4 linked regions of the Homo sapiens genome follow. The protein of the gene in region 1 purifies or fractionates together with the protein of each later gene. This does not show direct contact. Each region holds a gene or a part of one and is shown in the gene's direction. Other genes may lie near its edges.

Region 1 (2,273 bases):
TTATGATTGGAAAACATTTGAAAAGGTACATCATCAAGTCTAAGTTGATTAAATTCAGTTTTCCTTCCTATTTCCTCAATAACTTTTTTTTGTATTTTCTCTAGAATGCACGTTATGAACCAGGATATAACAGTTCACATCCCACCATAGTGATGTTTTGGAAGGCTTTCCACAAATTGACTCTGGAAGAAAAGAAAAAATTCCTTGGTAAGTATTATATCAAGGAATAGATCTGTAATCGTATGTCTTTTTAATGGGATAAAAATTTCCTTTATGATAAGTACCATTTGCAACAGATCATAGTGTCAGAGCTACGCCTAGTCCAACTGAACATCCTCTGTGTCCCAACATCAAAAAACAAATGTTAATATCTATAAGCAATCTTTTCCCCTGTGATTTCATCCCTTCTTATTGCTTTTAAAGTTTTCGTTTCTTCATCCAAGCTAAATATCAAGCCTTCTTTCTGTAGCCCTGTCATCATTCACTTATTCAGCCTTTTTGGGATTAACTAAAATATTTTATTTGGCTAATTTTTACTGTTCCTATATTATTAATACTATATTTGCTATTACTGTACACAGCTATTTTATTTGTATCTTTAGGCTTAATGACTTTCTCATTTTCTATTTCCTTACTTTTGAGAAATATTTATCTTCTATTTTTATTTTTGTGGATAACATGTATGTTAGAAGATATTCAGACTTAATAGAAGCCCAACCTACCTTTCCAGTCTTAACTCCTAGAGGAAATTTTTGTCCCAACCAAATAATCCCATTGTCTGAACACTCCTGAGCTCACCTTGCACCTTCCCACCTCCAGGCCTTTCTGTGAAGTTCCTTCTCCTGCCTTGAACCTCACCTACCTCCTTGTTGCCTTTCTAAACCTTTCCATCCTTAAAGGTCCGGCATAATTCTGAACTCTTGGAAATCCCCTCAGTCATCCCAGCCTGGCTCTCTCTCCTTATTCTCAAGCATAGCATTGACTCAGGAGGCACTTAACTCCATGACACCTCTTCGGGCTGTCTTATACCTTACAGCTTTTCTCTTGCTATTATGTGTCTTTTTCTTCACAAGAATCTAATATTCCCAGTCAGACTTTAAGCTGCTTGAGGACAGTGACTATGTGTCAGACATTGTTCGAATACAATCCCCAATGCACTGTCAAATGTAGGACACTGCACATGGGCTCCAGTGAAGTTTTGTGAATAAATAGATTTTTTTCTCTGTAAAGAGATTTTGGTCTCCATGTAAAACAGATTGCCTAATTTTATTCTTCTTTTTAGTATTTCTTACAGGAACTGACAGACTACAAATGAAAGATTTAAATAATATGAAAATAACATTTTGCTGTCCTGAAAGTTGGAATGAAAGAGACCCTATAAGAGCACTGACATGTTTCAGTGTCCTCTTCCTCCCTAAATATTCTACAATGGAAACAGTTGAAGAAGCGCTTCAAGAAGCCATCAACAACAACAGAGGATTTGGCTGACCAGCTTGCTTGTCCAACAGCCTTATTTTGTTGTTGTTATCGTTGTTGTTGTTGTTGTTGTTGTTGTTTCTCTACTTTGTTTTGTTTTAGGCTTTTAGCAGCCTGAAGCCATGGTTTTTCATTTCTGTCTCTAGTGATAAGCAGGAAAGAGGGATGAAGAAGAGGGTTTACTGGCCGGTTAGAACCCGTGACTGTATTCTCTCCCTTGGATACCCCTATGCCTACATCATATTCCTTACCTCTTTTGGGAAATATTTTTCAAAAATAAAATAACCGAAAAATTAACATAAAAGTCTTATTCACTATTCAATGTGTTTACCAGCTCTTTTGGAATTGCTATCATTGCATGTAAGATATATCAATTATAATATAGATTAAGCTGTGTCTCTCACACAATGTTTGCATGACTTGGCCTGAAGGGATACTCTTTACCTTAGAAGTTTTTTTAAAAAACTTGTAATTATCTACCCAATATCTGTTCTCCCCTTCTTTCAGTACAGATTCCCTATATGGTAGGAGTGGCATTGTTCTCAGTCTTAAAATCATACATTTCCCAGCCTCTCTTCAAGGTAGGGACAGGTGGCAGTGGTGACAGTTATTGGGAGAAGCTTCTGAGGAAGCTTTTTTATTTAAATGCTGTTATGCTTTTAATGGAGTTAGGTACAAAATGCATCCAAGCAAAAGAATGTTGTACATACTCATTAACATAGTGATAAATGTAAATTACACTTTGATAATGTAAAATACAGTGTGTTAGGCCCCAAAAAGAAACTACAAAGTTAGCT
Region 2 (3,500 bases), on another chromosome or scaffold:
CACTGCAGCCTCCACCTCCCAGGGTCAAGCAATTCTCCTGCCTCAGCCTCCTGAGTAGCTGGGACTACAGGCGCACACCACCACGCCTGGCTAATTTTTGTATTTTTAGTAGAGGTGGCGTTTCACCATGTTGGCCAGCTGGTCTTGAACTCCTGACCTTAGGTGATCAGCCTGCCTCGGCCTCACAAAGTGGTAGGATCACAGGTGTGAGCCACAGAGTCTGGCCTCAAAAGTTAACAAAAATTATTTCCTAACCCATCCTTTCTCCAAACATTCATTTCAGGAGGAGAGTCTAATTGAAATAGACCTCATTAGCAGGAGCTGATTTTTAGGTCTTGTCTTTTTTTTTTTTTTTTTGGAGGCAGACTCTCACTCTGTCACCCAGGCTGGAGTGCAGTGGTGTGATCTCAGCTCACTGCAACCTCTGCCTCCCAGGTTCAAGCGATTCTAGTACCTCAGCCTCCCAAGTAGCTGGGATTACAGGCACACACCATGACGCCTGGCTAATTTTTGTATTTGTAGTAGAGATGGGGTTTCGCCCTGTTGGCCAGGCTTGTCTTGAACATATGGCCTCAAGCAGTCTGCCCACGTCCGCCTCCCAAAGTGCTGGGATTACAGGTGTGAGCCACCATGCCCAGCCTTGTGTTTTTTATTTTTTACTTCCAGAATGACTTGCAGTTGTTTTTATTTTATTTATTTATTTATTTTTTATTTATTTACAGGCACACACCACCACACCCAGCTGATTTTTGTATTTTTAGTAGAGACGGGGTTTCACTGTTTTGGCCAGGCTGGTCTCCACCTCCTGACCTTATGATCCACCTGCCTCGGCCTCCCAAAGTGCTGGGATTACAGGTGTGAGCTACCGCGCCTGGCCCATCAGCTATTTTTATCAGAGGCCAGGGCTCTAATTGACTGGGGTTGGTGGTAAGAGGAGAAGAGCACAGGAAAAATTAAAGGAGTAGAGGCCATACTCCCCTTCTATTCACACCATAGTGAGACCCTGTTTATATTGGCTTTCTAGACCAAAGTTGAAGTTTATCTTTCGAAGCTTCTGATAGATTTATTTCTAATTGTACTATTTCTTTGAGACAAAGTCTTGCTTTGTCACCCAGGCTGGAGTACAGTGGCACAGTCATAGCTCACTGAAGCCTCGAACTCCTGGGCTTTAGCCATCCTCTCACCTCAGCCTTCTGAGTAGCTGGGACGACAGGTGCACACCACCAATGCCCAGCTAATTTTTGTATTTTTTATAGAGACGGGATCTCACCATGTTGCCAATGCTGATCCTGAACTCCTGAACTCAAGCGATCCGCCTGCATCGGCTTCCCAAAGTGTCGGGAGTACAGGCATGAGCCATCGGGCCCAGCCCTACTTCTGATTTATAATAATTGGTTCAATGATGGTGGGACCCTAGAGACATATAACAGGTAAAGGGGTTAACCAGGAAGCATCCTTTACTTGTTGATGCCTGAAGGTTTTCTACACTGAGACTCTTCACTTCATTTATACCTTTTTGTCCCACCATCATTCTTTCTGTCTTTTTTTTTTCTCCCCCTAAAGAGACAAGTGTTTCCCAGCCTGGGCAACGTAGTGAGACCTTGTCTCTACCGAAAAACTTTTTTAAAAAAATAGCTGGGCATTGTGACATGTGCCTTGAGTCCCAGCTACTTGGGAAGCTGAGGAGAGGAGCATCGCTTGAGCCCAGGAATTCGAGGCAGCAGTAACCTCTGATCATGCCACCACTCTCCAGCCTGGATGACAAAGCAAGAGCCTGCCTCTTAAAAATTTTTTAAATAAAAGACAAGCCGGGTGCGGTGGCTCATGCCTGTAATCCCAGCGCTTTGGAAGGCTGAGGCAGGTGGATTACCTGAGGTCAGGCGTTCAGGACCAGCCTGGCCAACGTGGTGAAACACTGTCTCTACTAAAAAATACAAAAACTAGCTGGGCGTGGTGACAGGCGCCTGTAATCCCAGCTACTTGGAAGGCTTGAGACAGGAGAATCGCTTGAACCCAGGAGGCGGAGGTTGCAGTGAGCTGAGATCGTGCCATTGCACTCCAGCCTGGGTGACGAGCAAAACTCAAAAAAACAAATAAATAATAAAAAATAAAAACTCGGGGCCCACCATGGTGACGAATGTCTTTAGTCCCAGCTACTCAGGAGGCTGAGGTGGGAGGATCGCTAGAGCCCAGGAGTTTGAGGATTGCTGGAGCCCAGGAAGTCAAGGCTGCAGTTAGCTGTGATGGTGCCGCTGCACTCCAGCCTGGGCAACAGCAAAGACCCTGTCTCCAAAAAGAAAAACTGAAAAAACAGGAACTTACTTTGTTGTCTAGGCTGAACCCAAACTCTTGGGCTCAAGTGATCCTCACACCTTGGCTTCCTGAGTAGCTGGGACTATTAGTTTATGCCACCAGGCTTAGCAACCCTACCATCATTCTTATGTTTGGTTATTTCCCACATAATCTTTACTTGATAGACCTTTCACTTCACATTCAGGAAAATATGATGGATCTAGTTTGCTGGTGATAGGCCAAATGACCTGTAACCTGTTGGTATATTTGGAGGGTGGTGGAGGTGAATGGTGTCAAAAATAAAGGTGTGGTTGCTCTTCATGGATCTGCCATACAGTGGGAAAGGTATCTTTTTAGTTTGTGTGACTGGCTGACATACCCCATACTAATCTTGAAGTCCCTTCCCATTGGTTTTCTTTTTGCTTAATTTTTGGAATACTCTGGCATCTGTTACATTATAGGAGAGACATCCAGGAGACAGCAAAAACTATAATGAATGTATCCGGCACGAGACCATCAGAGTTGCAGTCTGTGACATGATGGAAGGAAAGTGTCCCTGTCCTGAACCCCTACGGTATGTGTCAAGCGGGCTTGCTTGGTATTCCTTTCGGGCATTTGGGTAGTTGGCATCTTTGGGGCAGAGTACAGTGTTGGGTACCAGAGGGAGATAGAGAAGAAGGAAAGATGTGGTTCCTGCTTTTAAAGAACAAGTGGCTGAGGGTTACCCAAGAGGAAGTTCAGAGAGCTACTCTGTTGTTGGAGAATGCCATGCCTTTGGGAGAGGCAGTCCACACGCTCAGGGAGCTTCCAGTTTGATGAAGGCTTGGACGTACTTTTTTCCAGCCAAATGTGTAGAGTACTTCATAATAAGACTCATTTCTTAGTGCTGAAGTTATTTTTAAGTGCCAAAACTGGATGAGCAACGTCAGGGTTAAATAAATAAACTTCTAGGAGAATTTTGAGTAAGGTTTGGGATTGGGGATGGCTGATGAAAAGCAATGGAGGTGGAGCAAGTCATGAGTTGAAGTTGGGATTCAAATGGTGAGTATTGGCTTGGTGGTGGCTCACGCCTGTAATCCTAGTACTTTGGGAGGCTGAGGCGGGAGGATCACTTGAGCCCAAGAGTTCGAGACCAGCCTGGGCAACACAGGGAGACCCCATCTCTACAGAAATTTTAAAATTAGCCAGGTGTGATGGCACGCTCCTGC
Region 3 (4,108 bases), on another chromosome or scaffold:
CAGGCTGGTCTTGAACTCCTGACCTCAAGTGATTAACCCACCTTGCCTCTCGAAGTGGTGGGATTACAGGCCTGAGCCACCGCACCCGGCCAACATGCTGTTTTAGTAAGTGTGATGTTAGGCCGGGCGCAGTGGCTCACGCCTGTCATCCCATCACTTCGGGAGGCTGAGGCGGGCGGATCACGAGGTCAGGAGTTTGAGACCAGCCTGGCCAACATAGTGCGACCCCGTCTCTACTGAAAAATACAAAAATTAGCCAGGAGTGGTGGCGCGTGCCTGTATTCCCAGCTACTCTAGAGGCTGAGGCAGGAGAATCGCTTGAACCCGGGAGGCGGAGGTTGCAGCCAGCCGAGATCGCGCCACTGCACACCAGCCTGGGTGACAGAGTGAGACTCCGTCTCAGAAAAAAGAAAAAGGTAGCTTTCCACCAGGCGCGATGGTTCACGCCTGTAATCCTGGTACTTTGGGAGACCAAGTTGGGGGCGGATGGCTTGAGCTCAGGAGTTCCAGACCAGCCTGGACAACGTAGTGAAACCCTGTCTTTACAAAAGAATACAAAAATTAGCCGGGTGTGGTGGTGCGCGCCTGTAGTCCCAGCTACCTGGGGGGCCGAGGTGGAGGATCACTTGAGTCCAGAAAGCGGAGGTTGCAATGAGCCAAGCACTCCGCTTGGAGGACTGAACTGCTGTCCTCCAAGGTTGGGTTGGGGAATGGGGTCTGGAGAGGTAGTTCTGAGGCCCCAGTTCCTTTCTCAAAAAAAAAAAAAAAAAAAAAAAAAGTCACTTAACTGATGCCTCTGCAGTGTAACTGCATATTTCTGGCTCTGGGAAAAGAGGCAAGAGTTCCAATCTCTACTCCTTGAACTCGGAAAGGGGCCTTTGGGTTTCTAAGCTCAGTGTCACATATAACAGATGCCTTCGTTAAAGCAGTGTTTATTTTATGTCTAATTTAAAGAGACAGGGTCTCACTATGTTGCGCAGGTTGGAGTACAGTGGCACAACCATGGCTCACTGCAGTCTCGAACTCCTGGACTCAAGGGATCCTACCCCTTCACCTTCCTGAGTATCTGGAACTACAGGCGCGCGCCACCCCGCCTGGCTTGAGTTTCGTTTTTAGCTAGAGTTGGCTGGCTCTCGGTATCGGCTAGTTTAAAAAGCGCAGAAACAGGAACCTGCATTTTCCAGCCTAAGGCCGACGCAGTTGCAAGAGACCCTGTAAGCGGGGCGATGTTCTGTATTAAGCCAGTGTCTGACTTCGTCGCTTCCGGTGGGCGCATAAACGTCATCAGACAGCGCCGGAAGTGCCCTCGTGCTGCCTAGGAGACAAGACGCGAGGCCGGCAGCGCCCACCCGGTCGCAATGGAGCTTCCCCTAGGGCGGTGCGATGATTCCCGCACCTGGGACGATGACTCGGACCCAGAGTCAGAGACAGACCCAGACGCGCAGGCCAAGGCCTACGTGGCCCGCGTTCTCAGTCCGCCAAAATCCGGGCTGGCGTTCTCGCGCCCCTCGCAGCTATCCACACCCGCCGCGTCCCCGAGCGCTTCGGAGCCTCGGGCCGCGTCCAGGGTTTCGGCCGTAAGTGAGCCGGGCCTTCTGAGCCTTCCCCCGGAGCTGCTGCTCGAGATCTGCTCCTACCTGGACGCCCGCCTCGTGCTCCACGTCCTGTCGCGGGTGTGCCACGCGCTCCGCGACCTCGTGTCTGACCATGTCACCTGGAGGCTACGCGCGCTACGCCGCGTACGCGCGCCCTACCCAGTGGTGGAAGGTGCGCGGGGCCGGGGGCCGGGGACCGGGGGCCGGGGGCGCCCGCCCAGGTCAGGCTTGGGGCGGGGAAGAGGTACATGGGGTGTTCCGGATGCAGCCTCTGGTGCAGGCTTCGTGGCTGTCCTGGCTCAGGCTGGAGGCTAAGGTAGTTACTGGTGGTGCCGAAGCCCCTGAGGACCTCTGGGTGGACCACGAGGCAGTCAGGCACTTGGGGTCCTGAGGCTGTGAAACCCTAACATGGGGCTGTGGTTCCTGGACGACTCAGGATCCAAATATCCTCAGTCTTGGGGTCTTGTGGTACTAAGCCACTGACCCCTGATTGGGGATTGACACAGGGACTTGAAGTCTTAGGCTCTGGAGTTTATGCTGGGGCTCAAAGTGAGCCCAAGGATCCTCAGGTTCTGAGTCCAGCTTAGAAGCTGAGACAGCACCTGTTGATGTCAAAACTCCTGAGCCCTAGAGCCTTGACCCAGTTAGGGGTGAGACAGTGGCTCTTGGCCCTGAGTTGATTGGTTCCTGAGGGAAGACAGCTTGGGACCTTTGAATCGATATTGTTGATCCTGATACAGCTGGATCCTCAGGCCCTTAAGCCAAGATGTATTACAGCTTGGGTGTTTGATACCCTTAACCTGGAAGCTTTGATTCTGCTTAGAGAGGAATCAGGATCACTCCGGGATCAGTGATTCTCAAGGTGTTGCCATCCAACCCCCAGGTCAGACTCTCCCAAACAGCTTAATAAACATAGATGCTTGGACCCCGTCCATATCACAGAATCTGCATCTGGGGCTTGCATTCTGCATCTTGACAAGGCTCCCTGGTTTCCAGATACTGTTTGAGAAACAGCCCCCTTGGTCTGGTTCAGATGGCTGAGGCAGGAAGGGTTAGTCATGAGGTCCCAGCTTCTATGCTGAGCCTGAGGTCAGACCTCAACATCCTGAGACTGCTCTGCCCTGAGTTTGGGTTGGGGGATGGCGCCTGGAGAGGTAGTTCTGAGACCCCAGTTCCCAATTTCTGGAAATTGGAGTGAGTAGTCCTAGACCTGCCTGGGAAATGGGCAGGCAGGTGGTCCCAAGACCACAGCCTGGGTCGGCTTGGGGTGGGAGTAGGGATCTCCATGGGGTTCTGTCCAAGTCTGGTGTAGTGTGGGCTCCCTGGAAGCCAGGGTTGGGCTTGGCCAGCTGGCATGGGTGCTAGGGTCCCTGCCCACTGGGCACCCTACTCGTGGTAACCCACAGAGAAGAACTTTGACTGGCCGGCAGCCTGCATTGCGCTGGAGCAGCACCTGTCCCGCTGGGCAGAGGATGGGCGCTGGGTCGAATACTTCTGCCTGGCCGAAGGCCACGTGGCTTCCGTTGACTCAGTGCTGCTGCTCCAGGTGAGACGGGGTCTGTGGGGGGCCAGGCAGGGTGGGCCAGGGTGGCCCTGACAACATCACCTTGCTCCCTTTCCAGGGTGGGTCACTCTGTCTGTCGGGCTCCCGAGATCGCAACGTCAACTTGTGGGACCTGCGGCAGCTGGGGACGGAGTCCAACCAGGTTCTGATCAAGACCTTAGGCACTAAGCGAAATAGTACCCATGAGGTGAGGAGTCAGGTGGGGATAGGAGGTATGAGGCCTGAGTAGGGCATCTTGGTTAAGGCCCCAGGTTTTGGTACAGGACCGCATAGATTTGAATCTGACTTTTCTAACCTTGGTGTGACTTTGAGTGAGATGTGTGACTTCTCTGTGCCTCAGTTTCTACTTCTGTCCAGTGGGTGATTAGGATGAGGATGAAGGAGATGCATTATGCATTAATGTGGACATGCATTAAGCTCAGGCTTTTTTTTTTTTTTTTTTTGAGACGGAGTCTCGTTCTGTCACCCAGGCTGGAGTGTGGCATGATCTCAGCTCACTGCAACCTCTGCTTCCCGGGTTCAAGCGGTTCTCCTGCCTCAGCCTCCTGAGTAGCTGGGACTACAGGTGCATGCCACCACACCTGTCTAATTTTTTTTTTTTTTTTTTGAGATGGAGTCTCACTCTGTTGCTAGGCTGGAGTGTAGTGATGCAATCTCGGCTCACTGCAACCTCTGCCTCCCAGGTTTAAGCAATTCTCCTGCCTCAGCCTCCTGAGTAGCTAGGACCACCATGCCCAGCTAATTTTTTTATTTTTGGTAGAGACAGGGTTTCACCATGTTGGTCAGGATGGTCTCGATCTCCAGACCTCGTGGTCTGCCCGCCTCAGCCTCCCAAAGTGCTGGGATTACAGGCATGAGTCACCTGGCCTTTATTTATTTATATTTTTATTGAGACAGAGTCTCCCTCTGTCACCCAGGCTGGAATGCAATGGCATGATCTCGGCCCACT
Region 4 (3,500 bases), on another chromosome or scaffold:
TAGCACCGAGCTAAACATCGTTCCAGCCTCGCTTTGGCTGTTCCCGCTTCCTCTTTTAAGCAAGCCTGTTTCTTTCACTCACTTTCCAGTTTGGCCTTTCCTTATGATCTCTTGTGTCTTCTGGGTGTCATTCCTGGGCTTCGCCTCTCCCTGGTGGATGTGGCCGCACGCCAGGATGGGTGACAGTGGCACTTGCTCATGCCGTCCCTCCACTGTTGACTCCACCCCTGTTCCTGCGTGTCCTCGAATGCCAGCCCTGAGCAGAGTGCAGAGAGGAAGCTGCAGCGTCCCCCTGCTTGGCCATGTGTGTCTTCAGGGGAGGCAGACAGTGAAGCCGTGTTTTCATTTAGGATCTATGGGAGGGAGAGCAGCCCCTAGTGATCAAGAGAGAGACACGAGGGAAACACGTGCGGGAGGCCACACATGCAGGGAGGCCAGGGAAAGTGGAGAGAGACTGGAACCCCCAGGCCGACCCTTTATTGGGTCCAGGGCGTTCTGCACACAGGTTTCCCTTGGGGAGTTTTAACTGGTGGGTTTAATACAAGCGGGCACGAGCCCCGTGGGGCCACGCTGTGACTGTGGGGGACTCCGTGGTGTGGCTGCACAGTCCATGTGGGGCGTGGGGTCCGTGGGGACATGGGGGGTGGTCACCAGGGGACAGTGCGTAGGGCGGGCGTCTGGGTGGATCAGCTCGAGGAAGGGGGATGTGAACTGAAAATTGTTGCGGGTGGCAGCCCCGCTTCTGGTCAGAGAAAGTCCAGCCTAGATTCAGAGTGGATGCCGAGGCGGCCTAAGATGATGAGCGTTCCTGCAAGATGTAAAGCACTCGAGGGGCAGGGGTGCTGCATCCTACACAGGGTGGGTCTAGAGCAGAAGAGCCCGTGGCGATTTGGGGACTCGCATTGGGGCAGGGCTGTGCACAGGGAGCCCAAGGGAGGACAGAGGCCAGTGCTCCTCAAACCTGATGGCATGCACACGCATACACACGCATGCACGTGTCCTGATGGCACGCACACACATGCCCACGCCCATGCGTCCTGATGGCACGCACGTGCACACGCGTCCTGATGGCATGCACATACACATGCACACACACGTGTCCTGATGGCATGCAGACACGCACATACATGCGTCCTGATGGCATACACACACACATGCACACAAGTGCGTCCTGATGGCATGCACACACTCAGACACGCACACACGCGTCCTGATGGCATGCACACACGTGCGTCCTGATGGCATGCACACACATGCACACACGTGCGTCCTGATGGCATGCACACACACATGCACACACGTGCGTCCTGATGGCATGCACACACTCAGACACGCACACACGCGTCCTGATGGCATGCACACACACGTCAACGCATGCAGGTGTGGCCAGGGAGTCCTGGCTTGTGCACTTGTGGTCCTCTGGTTGGGGTTGGCCCCAAGCTCTGAATTTCCAACCAACTCCAGGTGCAGCCTGGGCAGCCAGCGTGTGGGCCTCGGGCTGGGGCGGGGCTGCCATGAGGCAGCTCATAGAGGGCCTGGGAGCAGGGCCAGGGGAAGCCACACAGGGTGTGCGGCTCTAGATTGATTTGAAGGTGGGGCCAACAGGATTTGCTCATGGAGTGGGTGTGATACCAGGAGGATGGAGTTGCCAAGTTGCCATTTGGTGGAAGTGGCCGGATTTCTGTCCTGGATGGGGGCGTCTGGGCGCTGTGCTGTGGACGGTCAGTGTAGTGGCCTGGAGTGTGCACAGGGCCCGTGGGTGCAGGGTGGGGGAAGTGGCTGAGCAGCCATTGCAGGGCTCCTGATGGGAGGCCGTGAAACTAGGGCGACCCCAGGAGGATGCCAGGACTGAGAGGAGAGCACCCTGTGCTTGGGTGGGCGAAGAGGGGCTGGCTGGAGTGGGAAGAGGGGGTGGGGAGTGGAGGAGCTAGACCAGGGTGGGGCTTTGGAGAGGCGGAGCCAGGAGTGGCCCCTTATAAGGCTATGCCGTTGGGTGGTCAGAAACCAGTGGTATGGCTGGGGGAGGTGGCTCACGCCTATAATCCCAGCACCTTGGGAGGCCGAGGCGGGCGGATCATGAGGTCAGGAGATAGAGACCATCCTGGCTAACACGGTGAAACCCCGTCTCTACTAAAATTAAAAAAAAAATTAGCTGGGTGTGGTGGCGCGCGCCTATAGTCCCAACTACTCAGGAGGCTGAGGCAGAATAATCACTTGAACCTGGGAGGCAGAGGTTGCAGTGAGCCAGGATCGAGCCACTGCACTCCAGCCTGGGCGACAGAGCAAGATTCTGTCTCAAAAAAAAAACAAAACAAAACAAAAAAAAGTGGGAACGTGTGGGTGACCCTGAGGTCGATCTTCAGGTCAGGTTTGGTAGAGCAGGGAGAAAGCCTGGTCAGGTGGATTTGAGAGCTTGGGAGGGGAGGACGTGTGAAGAGCCATGAATGAGGCCCGAATCCAGGGGATCAGGTCAGGGCAGGGGGCATTTGGCAGAACTTGGAGGGGTGTGTGGTGGAGAGTGGTGTGTTTGAGGTGCGTTTTGCTGGCCTTTGGGTGCAGTTGGGTCGGGGAAGCAAACGGTGCTGGAGAGTCGCTGGGTCTGGACCTGAGTCCTGAGAGGGGCGGCCTCAGCTGGGCCTGGAGCTCCTGCTGTGCTGGGGGTGTTGCAAGGAGGCCCTGCATGCCTCTTCCGACCCCTCTGCTCCTGGTGGGGGTGTGTGTGGACACTCCAGGGAGAGGGGTGTGCAGTAGCTGTGGTTGTCTCGAGCTCCCGGGGCAGTGGGGGTCTGGGTCCAGTCGGGTGGTGGGTACAGGTGGGGTGGGGAGGGGCATTGGGTCTGGGTGGTCATGACAGTGGGTGGTAGTGGAGAGCAAGGTCAGTGGGGGACTGAGCCTGGGAGCCGGCTGGGGACGGAGAGTGCAATGAGGACTCGGGAGCCGAGCTGAGGGGGGGGGGGGGGGTGGCGTGGGGGGATGGGGACGAGGTCTCCAGGAGCCCCTGCTGTGGCGGACGACAAGGCCCTTTCTGTTTTGTTTCCATGTAGGTGGCTATTATCATGGAAAACTAATTTTTCCCAGAGAATTTCCTTTCAAACCTCCCAGTATCTATATGATCACTCCCAACGGGAGGTTTAAGTGCAACACCAGGTAAGGTGCCTGGAGGGGCCGCGGAGGCTTTCTGGCTGCGGTGGGGAGTGTGCACTGACGGGGCCCCCGTTTTGCAGGCTGTGTCTTTCTATCACGGATTTCCACCCGGACACGTGGAACCCGGCCTGGTCTGTCTCCACCATCCTGACTGGGCTCCTGAGCTTCATGGTGGAGAAGGGCCCCACCCTGGGCAGTATAGAGACGTCGGACTTCACGGTAAGTTTTAGAGCCTCTCCCTGGTGGGCCGTCAGCCTTGTGTCTGGGGGGCTGTTCTCTGTTCCTGAGTTGCAGCTGCCTTTTTTTTTTTTTTTTTTTTTTTCTTGAGACGGAGTCTCGCTGTGTCTCCAGGCTGG

Evidence for each region.
Region 2: the proteins of HERC5 (region 1) and UBE2Z purify together in Homo sapiens (affinity purification with mass spectrometry, with the first as the bait; one study listed by BioGRID). This does not show direct contact.
Region 3: the proteins of HERC5 (region 1) and FBXW9 purify together in Homo sapiens (affinity purification with mass spectrometry, with the first as the bait; one study listed by BioGRID). This does not show direct contact.
Region 4: the proteins of HERC5 (region 1) and UBE2J2 purify together in Homo sapiens (affinity purification with mass spectrometry, with the first as the bait; one study listed by BioGRID). This does not show direct contact.

What each region holds. Positions count from the first base shown.
Region 1 is NC_000004.12:88,504,391-88,506,663, forward strand, and holds the end of HERC5 (E3 ISG15--protein ligase HERC5), read left to right. Parts: coding exon 1-25; intron 26-104; coding exon 105-207; intron 208-1,282; coding exon 1,283-1,488; 3' UTR 1,489-1,773; downstream 1,774-2,273.
Region 2 is NC_000017.11:48,918,407-48,921,906, forward strand, and holds part of UBE2Z (ubiquitin-conjugating enzyme E2 Z), read left to right. Parts: intron 1-2,753; coding exon 2,754-2,866; intron 2,867-3,500. UniProt on the Homo sapiens protein: Catalyzes the covalent attachment of ubiquitin to other proteins. Specific substrate for UBA6, not charged with ubiquitin by UBE1. May be involved in apoptosis regulation.
Region 3 is NC_000019.10:12,693,832-12,697,939, reverse strand, and holds the start of FBXW9 (F-box/WD repeat-containing protein 9), read left to right. Parts: upstream 1-1,308; 5' UTR 1,309-1,358; coding exon 1,359-1,767; intron 1,768-3,001; coding exon 3,002-3,141; intron 3,142-3,217; coding exon 3,218-3,346; intron 3,347-4,108. UniProt on the Homo sapiens protein: Substrate-recognition component of the SCF (SKP1-CUL1-F-box protein)-type E3 ubiquitin ligase complex.
Region 4 is NC_000001.11:1,256,855-1,260,354, reverse strand, and holds part of UBE2J2 (ubiquitin-conjugating enzyme E2 J2), read left to right. Parts: intron 1-3,044; coding exon 3,045-3,147; intron 3,148-3,224; coding exon 3,225-3,363; intron 3,364-3,500. UniProt on the Homo sapiens protein: Catalyzes the covalent attachment of ubiquitin to other proteins. Seems to function in the selective degradation of misfolded membrane proteins from the endoplasmic reticulum (ERAD).